Linked DNA regions of Homo sapiens. Changing the gene in region 2 together with the main gene of any one other region gives a genetic interaction. Each region holds a gene or a part of one and is shown on either strand. Other genes may lie near its edges.

Region 1 (3,813 bases), on a different chromosome or scaffold from region 2:
CCTGTCATAGCATGAGGTCTTACCTTGGGAAGACCAGTTTTCCAGGCAGAGACAGGCGAGGAACATCACGCCCAACATTGGGCCCCAGGTGGAGCTTCCGGGATAGAACGTCAAGGGGATTGTCAGCCGGCTGAGTGGCCACCTTCACCATGACGTTGCTATTGAAGATGTAGGCTGAGAAAAATACCTGCCGAGTTGGAGAGATGCCTTTAACAGAGGGAGTTGGAAGCAACCTGCTTTCAGCATCAGCCCTCCTTGCTCTTAAGAGCAGAGTCTCAGAATGCTGTGACTGCAATGCTTTCGTTGACTGTATGATTTGAGAAAATCTTTGCTCTTCCTGTGTACTTGCCAATTTCTGCACTCTCCACACCCAGAGATTACTCCCTGACGGGGTGGCCCCCACTGCAGCGAATCTTGTCAGCCTGTTACCTCTTCTATCCTAGGAGTCACACACACACACTACCTACTGTACGACTTTTCAGCAAACAAAAGGATCGGACTGCACACCCATGATACAGTTAAGGACTGGAGAGAGAGTGATCAGCAGCTGGGCAAGCCCGACTTTGGATACTTCTAGTTAATAGTTTTCAGGCATGAATGCTTCACTTCAACACAAAGAAGGGGAGGAGCTCCAAGGACATAAACGCTTACCCAAAAGACATCATAGATGAGAAGCCCTGAGAGAAGCAGGCAGGAGACCTTGAGGCTCGGCAGGCGGACAAAGGCGATCATGGCGACACAGAGGCCCATGGCCAGTGCTGGGGAGGAGACAGGGTACAGCAGACAGCAGTCAGTGTGGACTCCAGGCTCATCCTCTTTCCACAAGCTATGGCCCTTCACAGAGTTTGCAATTCCCTCAAAAATCAGGCAGCCCTAAGCTCCAGCTTCAGAAACTTACATGCAACTGGTGCAAAACACCCGCTTCTTCAGCCTGTTTGGACTTGTGGAATTTGGGGTGATTGCTTTCCTCCTCCTAGACATAGTGCTCGGCTGTTGGAGACCCAGGAAACCAGTCCAAGACCTCCAAGCTCTCTTTTCCTGCCTTCCCTCCAATGTTGTGGATGTGTTGTCCTTGCTCCCTGCTTTAAAGTGAACTCACACCCTAGATAGCACCCCCTTTCATTCACTGGAGGCATCATCCCAGCAATTCATTAACTGCGTTATAGAAAACTAGAGAATACAGTAAAGCAAAATAAAAAAATTACATTCCCACTTTTCAGAGATTACCACTGTTCAATATCTTCCTAGAATTTTGTTTTTCTTTTTGGAGATGGAGTCTCGCTGTATCACCCAGGCTGGAGTGCAGTGGCACAATCTCGACTCACTGCAACCTCTGTCTCCTGAGTTCAAATGATTCTCCTGCCTCAACCTCCCGAGTAGCTGGGATTACAGGCACCCACCACTACGCCCAGCTAATTTTTGTGTTTTTAGTAGAGATGGGGTTTCACCATGTTGGCCAGGCTGGTCTCGAATTCTTGACCTCAGGTGATCCACCTGCCTTGGCCTCCCAAAGTGTTGGGATTACAGGCATGAGCCACTGCACCCAGCCAATAATTTTTTACATACTTTTTTTTTTTAATCTAATGAGATCACACAATCTGTTCCCCCCCTCCACCAAAGCCAACAACCCCCAGTTTCCATTTGGGTGAATTTTCACCTCATTTAATCAAATTTCTCTATAGACCCCAAAACATCTTTTGCAGATGGTTTGTCTGTGCTGGTTTCCAATCTGACATAGTCCACCCCACCACTTTTATTTTTTTTGAGACAGGGTCTTGCCCTGTTGCCCAGGCTGGAGTGCAGTCATGCGATCTTGGCTCACTTCAGCCTCTGCCTCCTGGGCTCAAGCAATACTCAGCCTCCTGAGTAGCTGGGACCACCGGCATGTGCCACCACACCTGGATAATTTTTGTATTTTTTGTAGAGATGAGGTCTTGCTATGTGGCCCAGGCTGATCTCAAGCAATCCTCTCACCCTGTTCTCCCAAAGTGCTGGGATTACAGGTGTGAGCCACCATGCCCAGCCTAAAGTCCTTTTTTTAATGACTTGCTGAAACTGGAGTCATCTGGATTTTTCTGTGCTTCTCTATTGCAGTGGTTGGCTTTTCCTCTATCCCATATATTTCCCATAAATTAGATGTTATCATTTGAGTGCTCGATCACTTCCAGCAGGGCTTTCATCCCTGCTACTCCACTGACACTGCTCCTGGGGGCTTGCCAAGGATCCCCTCATTGCTAGACACAGTAATCGACCTGTCCTCCTCTTACCCGACCTTTAGGCAGCAACCCGCCCAGCTAATGGCTCCCTCCTTTTCCCTTGATTCTCAGGACAATGTGCTCTCCTGTTCCTCCCCACTCACTGGCCTTTTCAGGCTTCTCTGTAGCTCCTCCTCAATTCCCAGAACTCCACGGGCCTTTCCTCAGATCTTTTCCTCTCTCAGTGATCTCGTCCAATCTCAAGGCTCTTGACACTATCTATCTTATATGTCATCAACTCACACATTTTAATTTCCAGCCTGAATCTCTTCTTGGAGCTCCAGACTCATACATCCTGTGGCCTAAGAGACATATATACTTGGCTGTCTAGTTGGCCTCTCAAATCTAACATGTCCAAACTCAGCTCTTAACAGTGCAGTCTTCTGTCTCCAAGCATTTACTCTTTGCTTCCAATTGTGCAGACGGAAATCTGTGATGTCGTTTTTGACCCGTCTCTCTTTTACACCCTGCCTGGCTTAAGCCGCCATCCTCTCCTGGCGTGCATTGCTGCAATGACCTCCTCCCTGGCCTCTCTGCCTCCAACTTAACCCCTAACAAGTCTCTTCTTCACAGTGCAGACAGAAGCAGCTTCTTAAACCCTAAGGCAGGTTTTATGGGGCCCCTAGCTCAAAACTCTTAAACAACTTCCCATAGAGTAAAAGCCACAGTCTTCATACTGGCTGACAAGGTCCTGCTGTGACGGTGACCCTTCAGGTCACCTCCTGCTACTTCCTTTGCCAGCCACAGCAGCCTCCTCACTCTACCCCCCATGCCGCCGCTTCGGCCACGCCGCCGCTTCAGTGCTCTGCATTTACTGTGCCCTCTGCCTGAACGATCTCCTCCCAGAACCCAACTGGCTCCGCTCCTCGTCTTTCACAGTTCTTCACGCAAGTACTAGCTTCTCAATGACAGGTGGACTTTCCTGCAATTACATTTAAGATCATACTTCCTGCCCTTGTCTTATTTTTCATTTCTCAACTTCTGATATACATAATTTCTTCTTTTTTTTAAACATTCTCACTGCCCTCAACTCCAGTGAAGGTTCCCCGAGAGCATGGCTCAGTGCTCACCCTTGTAGTCTAGGCCAGGGCCTGGCAGGTGCAGGGCCTCTCCCCTCCTTCAGCTCTCTTCCTCCACTGTTCTGCAAACACAGGTTTGATGAGGACACAGAGCTGTTGAGAAACTCTTCATGGGGTCTTGTGGTGGGATGAATGTCCAACTCCCTGGCCAGGGAGGGCACTCTCCACTGTACAGCCCAAGCCCTCAACACGCATTCCTGTGGCTCTGTTTTCTAGACAGTTCAACACAATTTCCCGCTCTCCACACATACTGTGTTCTTTTCACGCTCTACCCAGAAGGTCCTGCCCCCGGCTCCTTCATATGGAAAATCCATCCTCATTCTGGAAGAGCCAGGTCAGGAGTCCTTTCTCAGAGTCTTTCCTGATCCAACCAGTCAGTTGCTGCTGCTCTTTTTTTGTTTTTTTGAGACAGAGTTTTGCTCGTTGCCCAGGCTGCAGTACAATGGTGCAATCTCAGCTTACTGCAGCTTCCACCTCCT
Region 2 (3,813 bases):
TAATTAAACTGCAGACTTTTAAAAGTTTATTTAAGCATTCTTTTTCTGTTGTAGGCTCCAATCTAGAATTCCTCATTACGTTTAGTTGTCATGTCTACTTGGTCTGCTTCAATCTGTGACAGTTACTTAGTCTTTCAAAACACTTCTGAAGAAGTGTTTTATATTTGTTTTTTTGTTTGTTCTGTTTTTTGTTTGTTTGAGACGGAATTTTGCTCTTGTTGCACTGGCTGGAGTGCAATGGCGTGATCTCGGCTCACCGCAACCTCCGCCTCCCAGGTTCAAGTGATTCTCCTGCCTCAGCCTCTCGAGTAGCTGGGATTACAGGCATGTGCCACCAGGCCTGGCTAATTTTGTATTTTTAGTAGAGGCAGGGTTTCACCATGTTGGTCAGGCTAGTCTCAAACTCCCGACCTCAGGTGATCTGCCCACCTCAGCCTCCCAGAGTGCGAGGATTACAGGCATGAGCCACCGTGCCGGCCTTATATTTGTATTTTTATAAAGTCCCTCAATTTGGTTGCATCTCAAGTTTTCTGTCAAGTTTTACCACTGGAACCTTACTGTCTTTCTCCTAGTCATCAGTAATTATTTGGGGGAAGATAGTTTACTACTTTGCATATGAGATGCTGTTTCTCTTTGAACTTTGGTCTAAGTAGCATTCATTGATTGATCTTGCCTGCAGCAATGACTACTGTGGTGTTGGGATTTGACTTTCTCTTTCCTTCATTCCTTCTAGGCATTCATTGGATACTTACATACAATTCTCATTCATTCAAAGTATTAATTGGAATCTTTGTGAGGAAGAGTTATCCCTTCTCCCCTGTTATTTATTTATTCAATCAGTTATATTATTGTGTGCTTTGGATACTTATTTTATTCTTTGCACTAGAATGCAGTACTGTTGTTATTTTATTGCTGAAATTATTGTAGCTCTTTGACTATTGGGAGCTGTGTCTGTTTGCCCCGATTTTTTTTTTTTTTTTTAGTCCTTCCTTAGTTTTTGTTTTCTGGCACCCAAAACCCTTATATTTTTCCCTCCCCAGCCTGGCATCAGTCACTTCTCCAAGGATCCCTGTTTGTTGTTGTTGTTGTTTGTTTTAATTGGAGAATAGTATAGTATTTAGAAATCAAATTTTGGGCACTCCCATTATTAGTTTATTTCTTAATTGGTAAATGAATATAAATATTATTTTAAGGCTTTAAATATATACTGAAAGCATTTTTTGTGTGTGTGTGTGTGTGTGTGTGTGTGTGTGTGTGTGAAGTGGAGTTTCACTCTCGTTGCCCAGGCTGGAGTGCAGTGGCATGATCTCGGCTCACTGCAACCTCCGCCTCCTGGGTTCAAGCGATTCTCCTGCCTCAGCCTCCCGAGTAGCTGGGATTACAGGCATGCAGCACCATGCCGGCTAATTTTTGTATTTTTAGTAGAGACGGGGTTTCTCCATGTTGGTCAGGCTGGTCTCGAACTCCCAACCTCAGATGATCTCGCCTCAGCCTCCCAAAGTGCTGGGATTACAGGTGTGAGCCACTGCGCCCGGCCTGCATTTTTTCTTAAGTGGTGATTATCTTGGAAACCTGTTTGCTTAATATCAGTTTATATACCTTCTATACACTTACACTGGTAGGAAAACACAAAAATAAGAGACTAGCTCATGGGGACATTAAAAGGAAAACAAAGAAATTACATTGGCCATGAGGTGAAGAAACAATGTAACAGAAGAAAATCTCCTTGAAAAATATCAAGATCTTGGTTGGAAGTTTCCCTGTTCTTTTCAAAGCCATTTTCTTTGTGGGAATGAAACTGGGTTAAGGTATAAAGCTCTGGGGGGAGAGTCCTGAGAATAAGATCCAGCTCATGTTCCTTCCCAGTTCTGAGTGTAATTGTGATATAATCTCAGCAAGAAGATAAATGAAGCTTTTCTTCTATGCTTAAAAGCTAGTTGGGACTTGGGAGAAGCCTGTGGCATTAAGATACCTGAATTTCATTGGCGGGCTCAGCTGTCTGCTGAGGTAGCTGTATGTTCACTATGCTCTGGGTCTTTCATTCAGAGTTTGAGAGGCCCGTGAGGTCTTTATTCATGTTCATGATTGCAGAGGCTGAGCTAACCTTTCTTTGACTCAAGGACTGGAATCCTCACTATATTCACAGGCATTCGCCCTGAATTTTCTGTCAGTCTTCTCATCACCTCTTTACAAATACATTACTGCCAGGCAAGGTGGCATGCGCCTGTAATCCCAGCTACTCAGAAGGCTGAGGCAGAAGAATTGTGTGAGCCCAGGAGTTCAAGACCAGCATGGGCAATATAGTGAAACCCTTGTTCCCCCGTCCTCCTCCAAAAATCTGGAAGTTAGCTGTTGTAGGGGGGAAAAAAAAGTCACTGACCCTTTTGGACATTTGTGCAGCAGCTGCTTCAGAACAGTCCTGCTTGGAGACTTATTTTTGGAGCTAATTTGACTGTAGGTGTCAATTTCCTGAGATTGGTCAGTGCCATTTATATTTTTCACTGGGTACATTTCTTAAAAGTGTTTCTCTCTGGCCTCAATTTCTTTCTCTTTAACTTAATTGCCAGATTTATCTTCATCTTTAGCAGCATTTTGGTTCTTTTCATACTTTGGTTTTCTTTCTCTTCTGTCTGTTCTGCAAGTTTGGCCATGAAAGTCTCTCTTCTTTTTCTGTTTTTCAGCTTTCTCCTGATCAGGTGTTTCTCCTTCCCTTTTGTGCTGCTGGCACGCACCGAGGCTGGAGCCTGCTCCTCTTGGTCCTGAAGCTCCCACTGCTTCTCAGTCTTCGAGTCTCCTTTTATAGGCCTTCATTTATTTACTTTATTTCTTCTTTCATTTTCCCTTTTTTTTTTCCTTTGAATACTTATTCTTACTCCACTCCCCTTTTTCACAGCAAGGCTTCAGTTCTCTGCCAGAACTGTAGCAGCTTCCTCAGCATGTGTGATCCCTAATGTAGCTCTTTTCTTGCCTCTTCTTGGCCCATAGAGTAGGGCTGTAGTTTCTTTTTTATCCCTGGATGATTGCATGCCTTCTAGTGTGAGTCTTCTTTACATCTTAGTTTACTGTCATTTCTTTTGACAGTATTAGCAGCACTTGCTGAGAGCAGAGGACATTGGATAGGTATTAGTTCAGAGCAAATGTAGAAGGTGGTGGCTCTTTTAATTTCATAAGTGTCACTCCTTTTACATTTGCTTCACAGTGGTGGGAGATGGAAGGGGTCAGCATTTTCAGGGGATATGACCTTCATCTGTGACTTTGTGCACAGGGTAGTGGGGCCACTTTGCAACAAGTTCTGAGACCTGTTGTCCATCTCACACTTTTTGTAGACACTCCAGTTCTTCTCTCATGAGTCTTTAGTTTGTCAGTTCAGTGGCTATTTATGGGCATATTTGGATCCTGGAGTAGATTGATGGCTGTTACTGATGGATCTTTTCCACCAATAATGTCTGGGTACTTTTACTTCTAGATAAAGAAGCTTTTAGGGACAAGAAGATACTGATGAGATTGCTCTCTAGACTGAACCAAGAGTCATATTAGAGAAATTCTGGATGCAGGTGATCTGTACAGAGTCAGCTGATCCTGTGTCTGTGGAACATTAATGGCAGCACTGCTTGTATTTCTCTTTTTCTTCAACTTTTATTTTTTTTCTTCCATTGTTGCTGGCTACTCCTTTTCTTTGTTTCTGTTTTCTTTCTGGATAGGTTTTTTATTTTTGTTTTGCATGTTGTGTTTTGGTAGCATTTTGCTCTTCTTGTTCTCTACCTCACTTGCCTGTTTTTTTTTCTCCTTACATCTGTTCAACTGGAGAACATC

Evidence for each region.
Region 1: changes in ZNF445 (region 2) and SPPL3 together harm fitness less than expected from each alone (positive genetic interaction), as found in Homo sapiens cells (one large-scale study listed by BioGRID).

The regions. Positions count from the first base shown.
Region 1 is NC_000012.12:120,768,302-120,772,114, forward strand, and holds part of SPPL3 (signal peptide peptidase-like 3), read right to left. Parts: intron 759-3,813; coding exon 652-758; intron 188-651; coding exon 24-187; intron 1-23.
Region 2 is NC_000003.12:44,470,900-44,474,712, reverse strand, and holds part of ZNF445 (zinc finger protein 445), read left to right. Parts: intron 1-3,813. UniProt on the Homo sapiens protein: Transcription regulator required to maintain maternal and paternal gene imprinting, a process by which gene expression is restricted in a parent of origin-specific manner by epigenetic modification of genomic DNA and chromatin, including DNA methylation.